2 separate regions of the Homo sapiens genome follow, and region 1 is linked to region 2. Evidence: fine-mapped expression QTL. Tissue or cell type: whole blood. Region 2 holds a variant in brackets; the other region holds the start of a gene. All regions are shown on one strand. Distances are between the middles of the regions.

Region 1 (8,188 bases), 110 kb after region 2:
ACAGACTTTTCAAATGTTGACACATTTCATGATATAACAGCAAACGTTCACATTCATGACTGTCACCACTTATCTCATCAAAAAAAGTTTTTAAGTACTGGGAAGCTGTCAAGCTCATGGTGGCAGATATAGATTTTCCAAATTTCTCATTTTCACTTGAAGGTTCAAATGTTATTACTGGCAACAAACACTTTGAGTTGTTTTCCTTGAAGTGACAGGCTTATTTCGTTCATTTTTAAGAAACTACCTGCCAAATACCCAAATTTGAGTAGGTATAATTATCTGTGAGTTGTTCTGTTAAGTAAAATTGGAAAAGAATATAGTTCATTTTGCGACTCAGAAATTACACAAGTGCTTTTCCTCAAAATAGTTAACATAATTCAGTATGCAGCAGAAGTACTTTGTGTGTACTTCCCATCTCATCACACAAAATGTAAGACTTGACTCAAGGGTTAATATTTAATAAAGTAGTATTAAGGCACGGTGGCTCATGCCTGTAATCCCAGCACTTTGGGAGGCCAAGGCAGGTGGATCACCTGAGATCAGGAGACCAGCCTGGTCAACCATGGCCAACATGGTGAAACCCCATCTCTACTAAAAATACAAAAATCAATCAGGTGCGGTGGCAGACACCTGTAATCACAGCTACTCGGGAAGCTGAGGCAAGAGAATAGCTTGAACCTAGGAGGCGGAGGTTGTAGTGAGCCCAGATTACGCCACTGCATTCCAGCCTGGATGACAGAGCAAAACTGTCTCAAAAAAAAAAAAAAAAGTATTATTAAACAGTATCTTATGAAGTCAACAGGAATTCACAAATTTTCATTACTCTCCAGTTTTCACAGCTGTCAATTAGCTATCTTTAGGAGGGAGAGTGTAGGCTGATGTAAAGAAGGACCAAAAAATTGTTCATTCGATTTTGTTAAAACTTTATTAAAAGATTATTCTGAAGCCATAGGCTTATCTGAGACTAATAAAGCTATGATGCTAAGTTTAGAGTTCTCCCTGAGAAAATAAGGTTCATATTTCAGCTTATTTTTATTATCTTCCTGCCAACAACCTCATCCAGCCTACAAAATAGGGTGCTATTCTGAATACAAAACGTTATTTTATAAATTTTGATCCAATATGCAGAAATGATATTGGACTTCCAACTTTATTATTCTATCAAAGATGCTATTCTTAACACTATCTCACAATTTTGTCAAAAATATTTAGGAGATTGATGAAAACTGCGGCCCAGTGTCATATATAAGTAAGCATATTATTCTCTAACAATGCAGAATTTTATTTTCAGATACAGAATATCTCTAAACACCATAAAGTCAAGTTCTTGAAAGGATGAGGGACATCCCTCCTTCATATTATCTGGATGAAGTGAGTATACCTGAGACAAAATGGTTCCCAAGTCGATAGGTGACTACAGTTCACTGATGACTTAGAAATATAGTATTTTAATAATGACACCAATATCAATAAACAAAGATATGTCCTAGAACGAAAAATAATATTTTCTAGGGAATTTGGGGAAAATTAGTCTCATACTGCCCAGAGAATCATCAGACATATTACAGGTCCTAAAATATGATTCTCAGTAAATATTTGTTAAATAATCAAAAGTTTCACTCTAATGTTATTAGGACAAAGTATAACAAATGACCAAAGAGAAAACAGATATCTACAACTTTTCCAAGAAAGCTAATTCCAAGGCCAATTTGGAGGTAATTTTCATTCGACACTATAATTTATACCATTTGTTCCTACAGCTTTCTCTCTCAGGTCACATTAACTGATATTCATAATAATGACCATCAACCTTCAAAACAAGGTTCATTTTTACTCAGTACATCCAGTTTAAGAACACAGTGGGGCTGGGCATGCGGGATCATGTCTGTAATAACAGTACTTCAGGAGGCGTAAGCAGGAGGATCGCTTGAAGCCAGAAGCTTCAAGGCTGCAGTGAGCTATGAGTGTGTAACTGCCCTCCAGCCTGAGCAACGAAACAAGATCCTGTCTCTAAAAAAACTTTTTTAGTTAAAAAAAAAAAAAAAAGAACACAGCAGGACCTCTCCCCCAACTTATTTTTCCTTTAACAAATACAGGGGAAAATACGTAACTATGTCAAGAGGCAAAAAGAAAAAAAGTTTACACATTTTTAATAAAACAAAATAGGCTATTATCCAGAATTTCCTTTCCTCTAGTGTTTCAAAGAGCTGTAATTTTCCTGAACTGTTATTTAACTCTTGTCAGCAATTTTTCAGGTATGTTCAAACCTAGACTCCTCAAGTACTTTAAGTCTCTTAAAGCAAATGTTGGCGGGGCGTGGTGGCTCACACCTGTAATCCCAGCACTTTGGGAGGCCAAGGCAGGCAGATCACCTAAGGTCAGGAGTTCAAGACCAGCCTGGCGAACATGATGAAACCCCGTCTCTTCTAAAAATACAAGAAATTAGTTGGGCATGGCGGCAGGCACCTGTAATCCCAGCTACTCGGGAGGCTGGGACAGGACAATCGCTTGAACCGGGGAGGTAGAGGTTGCAGTGAGCTAAGATCCAGCCACTGCACTCCAGCCTGGGCAACAGGAGCAAAACTCCATCTCAAAAAAAAAAAAAAAAAAGTGTCAGCCAGGTGCAGTGGCTCATGCCTGTAATCCCAGCACTTTGGGCAGGTGGATCGTCTGAGCTCAGGAGTTCAAGACCAGCCTGGGAAATGTGGTGAAACCCAGACCCTCTGTAAAAAAAAAAAAAAAAAAAAAAAGTGAGTGTCATGATGTTTTTGCTTCTCTGCAAAGTGTCATGATGTTTTTGCTTCTCTGCATTCTCTGTAGGCATTATACCCAAGTGTCTTGCACATAAAAGCTGCTGAACAAATATATGTTGCTTATGATAAAGCAATTATTTTCCTTCTGGTACCAACCAATGTCACCCTGAATTATAAATTAAACGTGTCTATACACCTCCCTATTTCCAGGTAAAGTTCACAGCCTTAGACTGAGTCAGGAGCTACAATCCAGTTCTGACTGATGTATTTGTATGACCCTAGGAAAGGTGCCTACTCTCTATGGCCTTCAGTTTCCTTTACTGTAAAAGAAGGGCATTATTTCCTCTGGTGTTCATAGCTCTAAAATTTTTAGATTGTATCAAACAGAAAGGAAGACATACTCAACGAAAACATAAATCAAAGATATTTAGGATTTTATAAAAATCACAATAAAAGTTGTAATACTGCATTTTGCATTGCATCACATTATTATTATTATTATTATTTGAGGTGGAGTTTCTTCGCTCTTGTTGCCCAGGCTGGAGTGCAATGGCGCACAATCTTCGCTCACCGCAACCTCCGCCTCCTCAGCCTCCCGAGTAGCTGGGATTACAGGCATGCGCCACCACGCTCGGCTAACTTAGTAGAGACGGGGTTTCTCCATGTTGGTCAGGCTGGTCTCCAACTCCCGACCTCAGGTGATCCTCCCGCCTCGGCCTCCCAAAGTGCTGGGATTACAGCCGTGAGCAACCACGCCCAGCCCTGCATCACATTATTACAATCCTATTATCTTTTTGGATCTCTATATAGTTTTATTAACTTTACCGTATTTACTTCCATGTGGCCCTCTGGGAAAGAGTAAATGAATGATATATCTTATTTTATCCTCATTTTGTAAAGGTTCTTGGGCTGGTAAAATGCAAGATCACTGAATAAGTCAGAGAAAAAAACACAAAAACAATGTCCAGTGTCCAGCTAAATAAACATCACTCCTAAGAAAGCAAACATCTTTTCCACGTTCAGGATGATGCTCATCCCCAGCAGATGGTCAAAAAAAAAAAAACAAAACAAAATACACATACACAAGCTTCATTACACCTAGCTATTAACCATACATGCTTGCTATCAGTTGTTGAGGAAGAAGGCTCCGTGTCTTTCTCCCCCATCCACCCTCTCCCTGCTACTTTACCTGTTTGTACCTGGCATACAGGTACAAGAGCTGCTCCCTGCTGGCCACCTGAATCAGGCCTTGCAGGTGCGCGGCAGCCTTCTCAAACAGCTCGGCCAGGCAACTGGTCTCCTCGATCTCAGGGCTATGGGGGAACTCCACCTCCCCGGAGTCGTCCCCTGAGCTCAGCTCTCCACCGCTGTCGCCGGTGATGGCCCCCGCGGGCAGGAATGATGAAGCCATGTCTCCTTGCTCGCTCCGTCCCTCTGTGTCCGGTCTGTCCTCCTTGGATTGGGTGTAAGGCCGGCTTGGAGGCCTGGCCCACCAGTCTGGGTCGCGAGCCTGAGCTCCAGTCGGACCCAAGCTCAGTCGCGGCGCGCTCCCTCACGTGACCCTGCTCCCTGCCCACTTCTACTCCCTGGGCGTGCAGAGCAGGCTCCTCGACCCTCTGCCGCTCTGCCCAGTCGACCCGGTCTCCTCCGGCTTCCCTCCGGCCAACAGCGCGCTCAGGCTCGCCTCAGGCCCCTCCAACGGAACAGGAGTCGAGGGGCAGTGAGGCCGGGATGCGTGCGAGCGCGGGGCGCGGCTGGCGCTGGGCCGTGGGGGCGGGGCGGCGTGCGTGCCAGCGGCGTGCGATTCTGTGAGGCCTGCTCTGCGCCGGCGGGGAAGCGCGGGCGACGCTACGCTGGACGTCCTTCCCTGCCGGAGGAGAGAAAGTGCCGTCAGCTGTAGGGGCGTCTTTTAATCGTTTCGCTGAAATTAGCAGTCCCGAGCTCCGGAGCCCGCCACCGGGATGGGCCCCCGGGGGTGGGGGAAGGAGGCCGTTTGTGTGGTAGTGTAGCGGTGAGAGCGGAGTCGCGGGAAACGCGAGGCTGAGGACTAAGGTTCCGCCTGCCCCAGATTGTGCGCCCCAAGCGCCTCCAAACAGCCCTGCGCGCGGATCTGTTGCGTGCGCGTTGGGCTCTGTGTTGAATAATGAAAAACTGCGAGATGGGGCTGTCCCGTCTTACTGTGTGACTGATGAGTGGAATCACTGCTCTGCGTGTTTCGCTCTCCACACCTTCGGAGCCCGCACCTCTCCGGGCCCTGAATAATAGGGTTTGGGGAGTTCGGGGCGCGCCTTAGCCCAGTTCTCATCCCGAGCTCTGTCTTTGACACTGTGCTTTGTAGACACTGTACAGTGAAACCAGAAGTACGGCACAGTTCGGCCCTAGAGGAATGCACAAAACTATTTTTTTAACTGTAACATTATGAGTGGTTATGTCCTAAATGTTAAACACAACGACGCACTATATATTCATTTAGTATTCAAAACAATGTAATAAGCACTATAAGAAGGGTACAAAGAAAGTGTTGTAAACAGTGGTTATTGACTGGGGTTAGGCTTGCGACGGGTGGACGGACGGCTGGACAGGATGAGGAAGCAATGAGAGAACACAGGAAGGTGAGAAAGCTTGCATCAGGATTCAACAGACATTCCTTAAGTCTCCAGAAAGTTCCACTGTTAGTCCCTGCTGTCAAGGTGCTCGCAATCCAGTCAAAGGGATGTTTAATGACCAAATTCTTGCAATTAAAAAGTGATTAAGAATAATGTATTGAGGACTTGATCATTACAACATAAGGTAGGTACTCTTATTTTACTACACATAGGAAATCAGCACAGAGTGGTTAAGTAACTTGTCAAAGGCTACACAGCTAGCAAATGGAGGAGCAAGGAAAAAGAAGTTAGCTTTCATGTGGGGTAATAATGGATGATGAACCCGACAAGTAGACTGAAGGAGATATAACATGGACTTTTATATCTTTGTTTCTAGAATTTTTATTAAAGTGAGAATTGAATATTATCAACGGCTTTTTTGGCATCTTTGGAGATTATCTGCTTTTCTCCTCTAGTCTTCGAAAGGAATTATATTAACAGTTTCTATTTTAATGAATTATATTAACAAAAATAAATTTGGGATTTAATGAATTATATAATAGCTAACATTGATAAATTAGTATGCATTATTTCAAAACCTCCTAGTTTTGAGCATTACTTCTGTTCTTGGAATAAACCCATTCTGGTCCTGGTTTGGTTTTTTTAAAAAATTTGTAGGTTCAGTTTGCTAATATTTTCATTATCTTTACAGTTCCATTTAAAGATGTCATTAACCTATAGTTTTCCTTTTCTATACTTTCTCAATTTTGTATCAAGGTAATAGAATCCTTGTAGAATGCATTTAGAAGTTTTCATCTTTTTCTGTATTCTGGAAGAGTTTACATAACATGGGAAAGAGAGCAACCAGAATTCTTTTACACTGCTGGTGTGAGCATAAATTGGTACAATCACTGTGGAAAAATGTTTGGCACTATCTACTAAAGCTGAACATAAATATACAACAATTCGACTCCTCCCCAGCGGGAATATATACATGGCATTCACCAAAAACATGTACGAGAACATTCATAGCAGCACTATGAACTAATTCCTAATTGCTCCAAACTGGAAGCTCCTGAATGTCCATCAACACTAGAATGGAGATAAACTGGTGTGCTTACATGATGGAATACTATTCATCAGTGAGAATGAACTAATTACAATGACACAGAATAACATGAATGAATCTCAAACATAATGTTGAGTATAAGCCTATACTCAAAAAAGTGCATATTACATGTTTCTAGTCATAAAAAATTCAAAATCAGGCAAAACTAATCTGTGGTGTTAGACTCAGGATAGTGGGTAACCTCAGGGTTAGTGATCTGAAGGGTGCATGAAGGGGACTTCTGGAAGTTGGATATGTTGTTTCTTAAGCCGAACATTAGTACACTGATGTGTTCACTTTATGAAAATTCATTTATAATTTATGTACTTTTCTGTATGTATATTTGAATGAAAAATGTATTATAAAACTAAAATGTAAGAAAGAAAAAGGAAAGAGTCCTTAACATTGAGAAGCTGGCCTGACACTCACAGCTAGGCCTTGTTATTCTCCTATTGAAGAGAAATAATCTCACAAAATAGCAACTGCAGACAAGGTCACTCTGAAATCATGATACAATGATACAAAGCAAACCACTTCATTAAGCTTTTCTAAGCACAGACAAAAAGCTCACTTTACTGACTACAAAATACAACACCTTTTTCTTGGCCCAAACAAATAACTACTACTACTTTAAAATTGCAGCTTTATTCTCATGCTAGCCACTTCTCTATAGATAAGACTGAGATGCCCAAGATCTCAATCTTGTTACAGTAGGTAGCTAGTCAGGAATGAGCAGGGCAGGAGAGGGCTCCGCACCACACGCACATATCAGGAATGTCGGGCAACCATCAGGTGATGGTCAAGCGGTTGTTAACTGTCTCACTAAAATAATAATTGATCACAGCTGGCACCAGGGAACAGCAGGCTCCTGATAGAAAACACCTGAAACTAGTGATCAGCAGCTTCCCGATAAGATCTCAGGAGTGGGGCGAGTGGGCTCAAGCATGTGCATGCGGACAGCCCACCCCAAGGGAAGAATCGGGGAGAAGTAATGCAAGACCGCAGAAGTAAGCCAATATATAAAACCCCAAGGCCAGGCACACAGTGGCTCATGCCTGTAATCCCAGCACTTTGCAGGGCCAAGACGGGCGGATCATCTGAGGTCAGGAGTTTGAGACCAGCCTGGCCAACATGGTGAAACCCTGTCTCTACTAAAAATACAAAACAAAACAAAACAAAACAAAAAAAACAAAAAAAACAGAATTAACTACTCAGGAGGCTGAGGCACAAGAATTGCTTGAACCTGGGAGGTGGAGGGTGCAAGCCAAGATCGCGCTACTACACTCCAGCCTAGGCAACAGAGCAAGAATCTGTCTCAAGACAAACAAAAACAAACCCTGAGTCAAAATATCAAGCTGTGTACTTGCCTTTCAAGTTGCCTGTTTGGCTTTCTTCCAAGCATACTTTCCTTCTTTTTATTCCTGCTCTAAAGCTTTTTAATAAACTTTTACTGCTGCTCTAAAACTTGCCTGGGTCTCTCCTTCTGCCTATGTCCATCAGTTGAATACTTTATTCGGAGGAGGCCAGAATTGAGGGTGCTGCAGACCCCAAGGGATTCACCACTGGTATTACTATTTTGAAGTCGTGTGACTCAGATACGTTTCCCTGCTGACACAATCATAGACTTCCCCCAGCTTTCTGACTGCATCCAATTGAGAGCATATTCCCGCTTCCTTAGATGCTCTCCCAAATCACCACAAAGCCCAAATCGTATAATAGGTTCTTTCTTAACACCCTTT
Region 2 (8,188 bases):
GATGCTCCTACTCCTCCTACCAATAAATGTTCAGCATTCAAATACCTTTTAATGTGCTTTGGGGGGTAGTTTTAATCTTTCTTCAGGGCTTGAAAAATCAAAGTTACTCAAGAAGTCAGAGAAGGGTGTGTGTGTGTGCGTGCGCACGCCCGTAAGCCATATCCTAATCCCAAATGTGGCAAGAACCTAACTTCCAGAGTGGAATTAAAAATCAATACCAAGCAGTGGAAGAGACAAAACTGTATCCATAATACTGTCAGATAACAAATGAAATCTATACAGCATCTTTCTTAGAAATAAAATTTCAAGCTTCAATTCCATCACAGTCACACAACATAGAAGCCGCAGTATAAAAAAAAATGTATGAGATAGACTGAAGGGTAAAAAATGACAGGAAAACACAGAGTAGACTTTGACATATCTCTAATTACTGCTTCGTTTCAGACTAATGGTAAAAATTAGTCTTCAGATAGCTGATAACATCAGACTGTCTGTGCTGAGTTAGTACCAAGATCTGTGGCCAAGCAAATACTTCCAATAAAATTGATTTTCCTTTTTGGCAACCAATAGGCCAGTCAATAATAATGTTGTTTAAGAAATATAGAGTCATGAGGAGATGAACCTTTCCTTCCATTTATTATGTTTGTATTGTCTATATTTGAAAAGCGTTTTCAATAACAAAACCAAAGAAGATATTACAAGCAAAAGAGTTATTCTGAGCGCTAATCTCCAGAAGCCCTCTGACTTCGAAGCATGTTAGCAACTCAAACTGGAAAAGCCAAAAGCAACCCATTAACTAAAGTTAGATTGTATAGATTATGACTGTCAAAAGAGAATCAAAGCTGGTGGCTACACACAATGGTCATGTGAATACAAAGGAAAACATTGTGGCAGGCATATAATTCTAACAGATCCGTCCTAAAAACCTACACGGAACTTTTACTTTGCATTAAAGCTTAGTGTTTAGTAAAGAATGTTCTATAAAGCCACCTATAGTTTTTGGATTGTTTGTCTCACACTATCCAAACAAATAGAACGTAAGAAATCCGCAAGGCAAAAACCTCAGGCAATGCCTAACTTGGGGATATTTCCATATACAATACCTCCAAACAATGTGTTTGGTTCAAAAAACTGTTTTGTTGTTTTTTAGAGACAGGGTCTTATGCTCTGTCACCCAGGATGGAATGCAGTGGCACAATCATAGTTCACTGTAACCTCAAACTCCTGGGCTCAAGTGATCCTCCCACCACAGCCTCCAGAGTAGTTAGGACTACAGGCACCCACCACTACATCTAATTAAAAAAAAATGTGTGGAGATGGGGTCTCACTATGTTGCCCAGGCTGGTCTCAAACTCCTGGCCTCAAGTGATCCTCCTGACTCAGCCCCCTAAAGTGCTAGAATTACAGGCATGAGCCATCACATCTGGCCAGTTTTTTTTTTTTTCTTTGTTGTTTTAATTTAGTGGTAATAGTGGTTGGGGAAAGCTGGATGTTGAAAAAATGACTTTGAAATTTACACAGAAAAATAAATGAGCAAAAATAGTAGAAAGTATTTTGAATGAGTAGTGAAGGAATTTGCCCAACCGGATTTAAAAATATATTTTGAAGCTATAATACTTAAAACAGTGTAGCACAAATACATGAACAGAAAACCAGAGCAATGGAATGGAAGAACAAGCCCCCAAGATAGACTGAAATACATAAAAGAATTGAGACTATGGTAAGACAGTTCAAATTGCTATAGAAAAGATACCAATTATTCCATAAACATTACTGGAACTGGCTAGTCATCTGGACAAAAATAAAGTTGGCACCATCTGGACAAAAGTAAAATTCCTATTACATACATAGGATACATATATCAATTATAGATGAGTTGATAAAAACCACGAAATAATGAAAGTACTAGAAGAAAATGTGGGGGAAAATTTAAACAACTATATCACAAAGAAAGTGCAAATTTTCCTTACTATATAAAAAGTTCCTGTAAGGAGAAAAATACCATCAATACAATGGGAAACTGAGGAAAAGCTATATTAAAAATATAATATACCATTCATCATTCATCAAACAGGCAGAGAACAAAAAGTGTTATGATAAACTATTTGGCATGGCTAGAGAAACAGGAATTCTCTCACACACTGCTGGTGGAAGTATAAATTGTTACAGTCCATTTACATGGTACTAGTTAACTAAATTATGATACATTCTCCTGGGAACTGGTTGGATGATGGTGCCAATTATGGTGAGTAGTGGGCGGGGAAGGGTGGACTGTTGAAGGATGCTGGTGTTTAGTGTTAGATATTGTGCGTTTGAAGTGTCTGAGGGATATCAAAGAAGAGATATGTGTGTCTGGAGCTACTGGCTGAGATCTGGGTTGGTGATAAACATTTATTCTACTTTCTCTGTGAAATAGGAGGTATTCTGAAGATAAAGACCAGAAGATTTGGTAGTCAAATTTAATGATGATATTACCATGATTTATGGTAACACCAGTGTTGTGTGATTTTTTTTTATTTTTATTTTTAGCTTTTTCCAGAACCTAAGTGTAAAAAGACAAAGATGCCTATGTTACCACTTCTATTCAACCTAGTACTGAAAGGCCCAGCCGGAGCAATTAGGCAAGAAAATGAAATAAAAGGTACCCAAATCAGTCATTAGGATGTCTATTGTCAAAAGCACAGAAAACAACAAGTGTGGACAAGGATGCGGAGAAATTTGAATATCTGTGTATTACTGGTGGGAATGTAAAATGGTGCAGCTACTGTGGGAAACAATATGGCAATTCCTCAAAAAATTAAACGTAGAATTATCATATGATCAAGCTATTCTATTTCTAGGGTATATACTCAAAAGAAGTGAAAGCAGGGACTTGAACAGACATTTGTACACCCATGTTCACAGCATCCTTATTCATAATCGCCAAAAGGTAAAAGCAAACCAAGTGCCACAGATATTGGAATAAACAAAGTATGGTAAATACATACAAATAATATTCGGCTTTAAAAGGGAAGGAAATTTTGACACATGCAACCACATGGATGAACCTTGATGATGTTATGCTGAGTGAAATAAGCCAGTCAAAAAGGGACAAATATTGTATGATTCCACTTATATGAGGTACCTAGAGTAGTCAAATTCACAGAAATAGAAAGTAGAATGGTAGTTGCCAGGGGCTGAGGGAATGGAGGAATGGGAAATTAGTGTTTAATGGTTAGAGTTTCAGTTGGGGGAGATGAAAAAGTTCTGGAGATGGGTGCTGGTGATGGGCACACACAATACAAATGTATTTAATGCCACATAACTATACACTTAAAATTGTTAAAATGGTAAATTTTATGCTATGAGTATTTTACCACAATAAAAAAGAGGAAGAAAACCAAAACCTTAGGTTCTGGAAAGGGGTAAATTTTAATGACCTTGGATTTGGCAATGGTTTCTAAAGTATGACACCATAAACAAAAGGAAAAAAGAGAAAACAAATGATAGAGTTCATCAAAATTTACAACCTGTGCATCAAAAGACACCATCAAGAAAATAAAGAGAAAACCCACAAAAAGGGAGAAGACACTTGCAAATCATGTATCTGATAAGGGTCTAGTATCCAGAATATATAAAGCACTCCTACAACTCAACAACAAAAAGACAAATCACTTTAAAATGGGCAAAGACTTAAACAGACATTTCTCCAGAAAAGATATGCAAATAGTCAACAAGCGTATGAAAAGGTACTCCATATCATTAGTCATTAGGGAAATGTAAATCAAAATTATACCATGATGAGATATCACTTCATACCCACTAAAATAGTTATTTTTAAAAAAGCAAAAATAACAAGTATTGGTGAGGATGTGGTGAAACTGGAAGCATCATACACAGCTGCTGGGCATGAAAAATGGTGTAGCTCCTATGGAAAACAGTTTGTCAGTTGCTCAAAAAGTTAAACATCAAATTACCATATGACCCAGTAACTCCACTCCTATGTCTACAACCAAAAGAACTGACAACAGGTATTCAAATAAAAATACAAGGACACAAATGTTCACAGTGGCATTATTCACAACTGCCAAAAGACAGAAACAACTCAAGCTGCCCATCAATTGATTAATGGATAAACAACATTTGGGATATCCAAAAAATTCAGCCATAAAAAGGAATGAGGTATTGTTACATGTTACAATATAGATACACCTTCAAAACTTTATGCTAAGTAAAAGAAGTCAAACACAACCATAAATTTTAAGATTCCCATTTATATAAAATATCCAGAATAGGCAAATCTATAGAAACAGAAAGCAGATTAGTGGTTGCCAAGGTCTGGGGCAAGGGGAGAAATAAAAAAAATGTTAAAAAGTGACTGCTTAGTGGGAACAGGGTTTTCTTTTGC[G/C]GTGACAACAGTATTACGGAACTATATAGTAGCAATGATTACACAACATTGTGAAATGTACTAAACGCCACTGAATTGCACATTTCAAAAGAGTTAATCTGGTAAATTTTATGTTATGCGAATTATACTTCAATTTAAAAAATAAAAGCTCTTCTTTATCACTCTTACCTGACAGTTAATGTCAGCTCTATGTTGCAGCAACACTGTGACTAGTTCCTTATGTCCTCGATCACAGGCCCAGTGAAGTAGAGCCCTACCCTAAAAACACAGAAGATAAATGAATTTGTTATCTCAGTTGTGGAGCCATGTAAAAGATATAATGTTTTAAGAAAGACAAGGAAATATAAAAAATTATGGGTTAATTATTCTAAGAATGATTGATATAAAAAATGCACTATGGAAAAAGCAATAAACAATCAATGGGGCAGGGCATGGTGGCTCATGCCTGTAATCCCAGCACTTTGAAAGGCCGAGGTGGGTGGATCACTTGAGGTCAAGAGTTCGAGACCAGCCTGGCCAACATGGTGAAACCCTGTCTCTGCTAAAAATACAAAAATTAGCTGGGCATGGTGATGGGTGCTTGTAATCCCAGCTACTTGGGAGGATGAGGCAGGAGAATCGCTTGAACTCGGGAGGCGGAGGTTGCAGTGGGCCGAGATTGTACCACTGCACTCCAGCCTGGGTGACAGGGCAAAACTCCATCTCAAAAACTACAACAACAACAACAACAACAACAACAACAACAATGAAAACAATCAATAGGAAGCCCCAATATCTACTTCTGGGTCTGTACTAGCCCAATGCCTGCTTTCAGCTCAATCAGTTCACTTACAGAGTGGAGATAATGATAGTAATAACAACAATAATATAAATAATACCTGCTAAATGAACTGTAAGAAAATGCTTTGTAAACTGTACTTTAAATATAAAGTATAGTTTTCTTAAATATTATGTCCATTTCTTTTTTTCTGGAAAGAAATCATAAGAATAAAAAAGCAAGCACTTAAACCTAGGTAGAAATCATAATCTAAATGTATGATAACTAAATTTCCTCGAGTTCATTCCTTAAAAAGATTATTTAACCAGTTTGAAAATAAGCATTTCTCCTTACTATTGCAAGTTTACACTCTGAAATACCTCAAAAACACTAGTACAATCTATCAGTGTCTATCACCAAACAGTTGACTGTGAAAGCCACTTGTAAAAGAGAATGGATGACTAAATATTAGGAGATAAAGTACTAAATATGAAATATTAATTTTAACACTTGTCTACCAAAGACTCACAGTTACTATTACGTGTGTTATTTCTATTCTCTACTGCCAGAAAATCTTGTTTTAGTTAATGAAAAAAAGCCTACTTGGTTCAAAAGAATAAACAAAACCCCAAAAGCTAAGGGCTTTTCTGAATAAATGAGTGATGCATGGCTTACTACTTTCTGAGGATGGTGATGATGTTGTCATTTATAAAGAATGGAATGTTTTTCCACATTAAGTTGACATCCCTACTTTATGTGATTTTAGAAAAGATTTAAATAGATATAAGCTAGGGCAAGGATTGATTTAAAGTAAAAAGCACCTTTCAAGAAATAGCTTTTCTAAAACTGCCTACATTCTTTTTATCATTCAGACTTTCTTCACATACCTATTATTTCAAATAATTAAACTAGGATCTATTCTTTAAACAAAAAACAAAGTAGGAAAACTTCTTCCCTACAAATTGTCTTCTTCTTTTGCTTTCATTTGCTTGATTTACTTTTATTTACCTGTAAATATCTGTTTTCTAATAAGCTTACACAAAATCCTAAGAGGGGGGAAAGCAGAGAAAAAGTGTGGTCAAATCATTCACAATTTATTGTAGTATCAAAATAAAAAAAATTTATTTTGCCTTGTTCAGAGCCCACTAGGAGTTATTTTTTATTTATTTATTTATTTATTTTGAGACGGAGTTTTGCTCTTTTGCTGAGGCTGGAGTGCAGTGGCGGGATCTCCGCTTACTGCAACCTCTGCCTTCCGGTTTCAAGCAGTTCTGCCTCAGCCTCCCAAATAGCTGGGATTACAGGGACCCGCCACCATGCCCAGCTAATTTTTGTATTTCTTTTTAGTAGAGATGGGGTTTCACCATGTTGGCCAGGCTGGTCTCGAACTCCTGACCTTGTGATCCACCTGCCTTGGCCTCCCAAAGTGCTGGGATTACAGGCGTGAGCCACCACGCCCAGCCAGAAGTTATTTTTCAGTGGAGACAATTCTAAAAGTCCAGGTGAAAATGTATTGTTGAGTTCTAGAGCAGTTTCCTATGTTAAAATTTTTGTAGCTCTAATGTGACCTGCTGTTACTAGGGCTCTAATTCAGAAATCCTCCATATGAACAATTAGATATTTTAATGAGACTCTGAATAAATACTAATGAATAAAATATTCTACAGGTCCATGTTATTGTTTCACAGCATTTATTAATACATTAAAAGAATCAGACAAAATTTCAAAGTCTATCATTTTTAGTTCTAATTGTAAGTGTGCATTTTATGGCTATTAGGTTAAACTATTGACAAGAGTTATACATAGTTAAGACGATGTGTGATATATTTACATAGGGTACTTACAAAAACTATGTAATAGTTAAGTAGGACAACATAATATGTCTTGTACTTTTACCATAAGATGTATAGATAATTTCTATCTCTCAGCCACGTTCCTGAATTTTCCTTAGGTTTGACCCAATAGGGTTATATCAACTAAAGCTAAAATGTAAATCCTTAGCTGTTTCAATGGTAAAGCTGACAAGCAACACATTTTACTGTTAATGGGAGTTATATTTTAAATTTCCCATATTTTAAATTTTCCATGTGATGCCAAAAATTTACTTTAGGGGAAACACCTATGACTGGACCTCCATAGTGATTTTCACTTTGGATATATTTTCCAGAAGCGGGGCACATGTATAGCAATGTTTTAAGAAGGATGATGTGCTCTCAGACATTTACACCATACTTTTTAACACATTTTCTGACCTGCAATGCAATTAATTCTTGTAACACATTATTTTAATGGTACACTAATTAACCTTGAATTAGAATGAATTCTCTGACAATGACTTTCTGTAGAAGCACTGAAGATATCTACATTAAGACCACCTAATGATTAATATTCCATGCAGTATTAAAAAGCTCAAAAACAAGAGTAGGATTAAACATACTTGTAAATAAACACAGACAAAACAAATCAGGCTTTGGAATTTTAACCTTCAAGATGCTCTATATTTAAATGAACAAAAACCAGCAAAATGAGGTGTCTGTGATACCTTTTACTTCTTCAAATTATAAAATTCCTATAAACATGCTCTAATTTAAGATTATTATTCACTCACTAACATAACCAGTAATTTGCAGAGATGCTATCCTTATAATTAATCATGATAAAATCAGGAAATAAACACCTGTGGTTTCTTTCCTTTCTCTTTGTTAACCACAAACACACCTAGACCACTACAATTATTAAACTATTTTAGGTAAAGAATTCCAAAATCTCTCCTCCAGAAGGAAAACCATGACTTAGGTGTGCATTAAAGCTATATCTTCTAAGACTTTATCTAAATTTATGAACTATTTTACATATTTGTCTATATAATTGTTTTATCTTTTTCCATGAGTGATATAATCTCTTATAAATTTTCAAGTTAAATTTATTTTTATTGCTACCAAAATAAGTGACAATTCTTTGTTTCTAATTTTTAAAACTCTTCTGGAAAAATATCCCAGAAGTATTCAGGAGATTGGTGAGGGAGAGCCATTATTAAAAGGAAC

The links. PIP is the estimated chance that this variant, and not a neighbour inherited with it, causes the effect.
Region 1: ACBD6 starts here. The variant in region 2 is fine-mapped to the expression of ACBD6 in whole blood (TOPMed, PIP above 0.99).

What each region holds. Positions count from the first base shown.
Region 1 is chr1:180,498,100-180,506,287 of GRCh38, forward strand. ACBD6 (acyl-CoA binding domain containing 6) reads right to left here and starts at 4,478. Exons shown (of 8, transcript NM_032360.4): 1 at 3,946-4,478. The coding sequence starts at 4,167. RefSeq lists enhancers at 2,885-3,400, 3,401-3,916, 4,024-4,524, 4,046-4,235 and a silencer at 4,446-4,545.
Region 2 is chr1:180,392,961-180,401,148 of GRCh38, forward strand. It overlaps ACBD6 (acyl-CoA binding domain containing 6), which reads right to left. Exons shown (of 8, transcript NM_032360.4): 6 at 4,556-4,645. Among named protein-coding and RNA genes, the nearest start is that of MIR3121, 41 kb to the right of the region's middle. The variant G/C (reference allele first, on the strand shown) is at 4,388.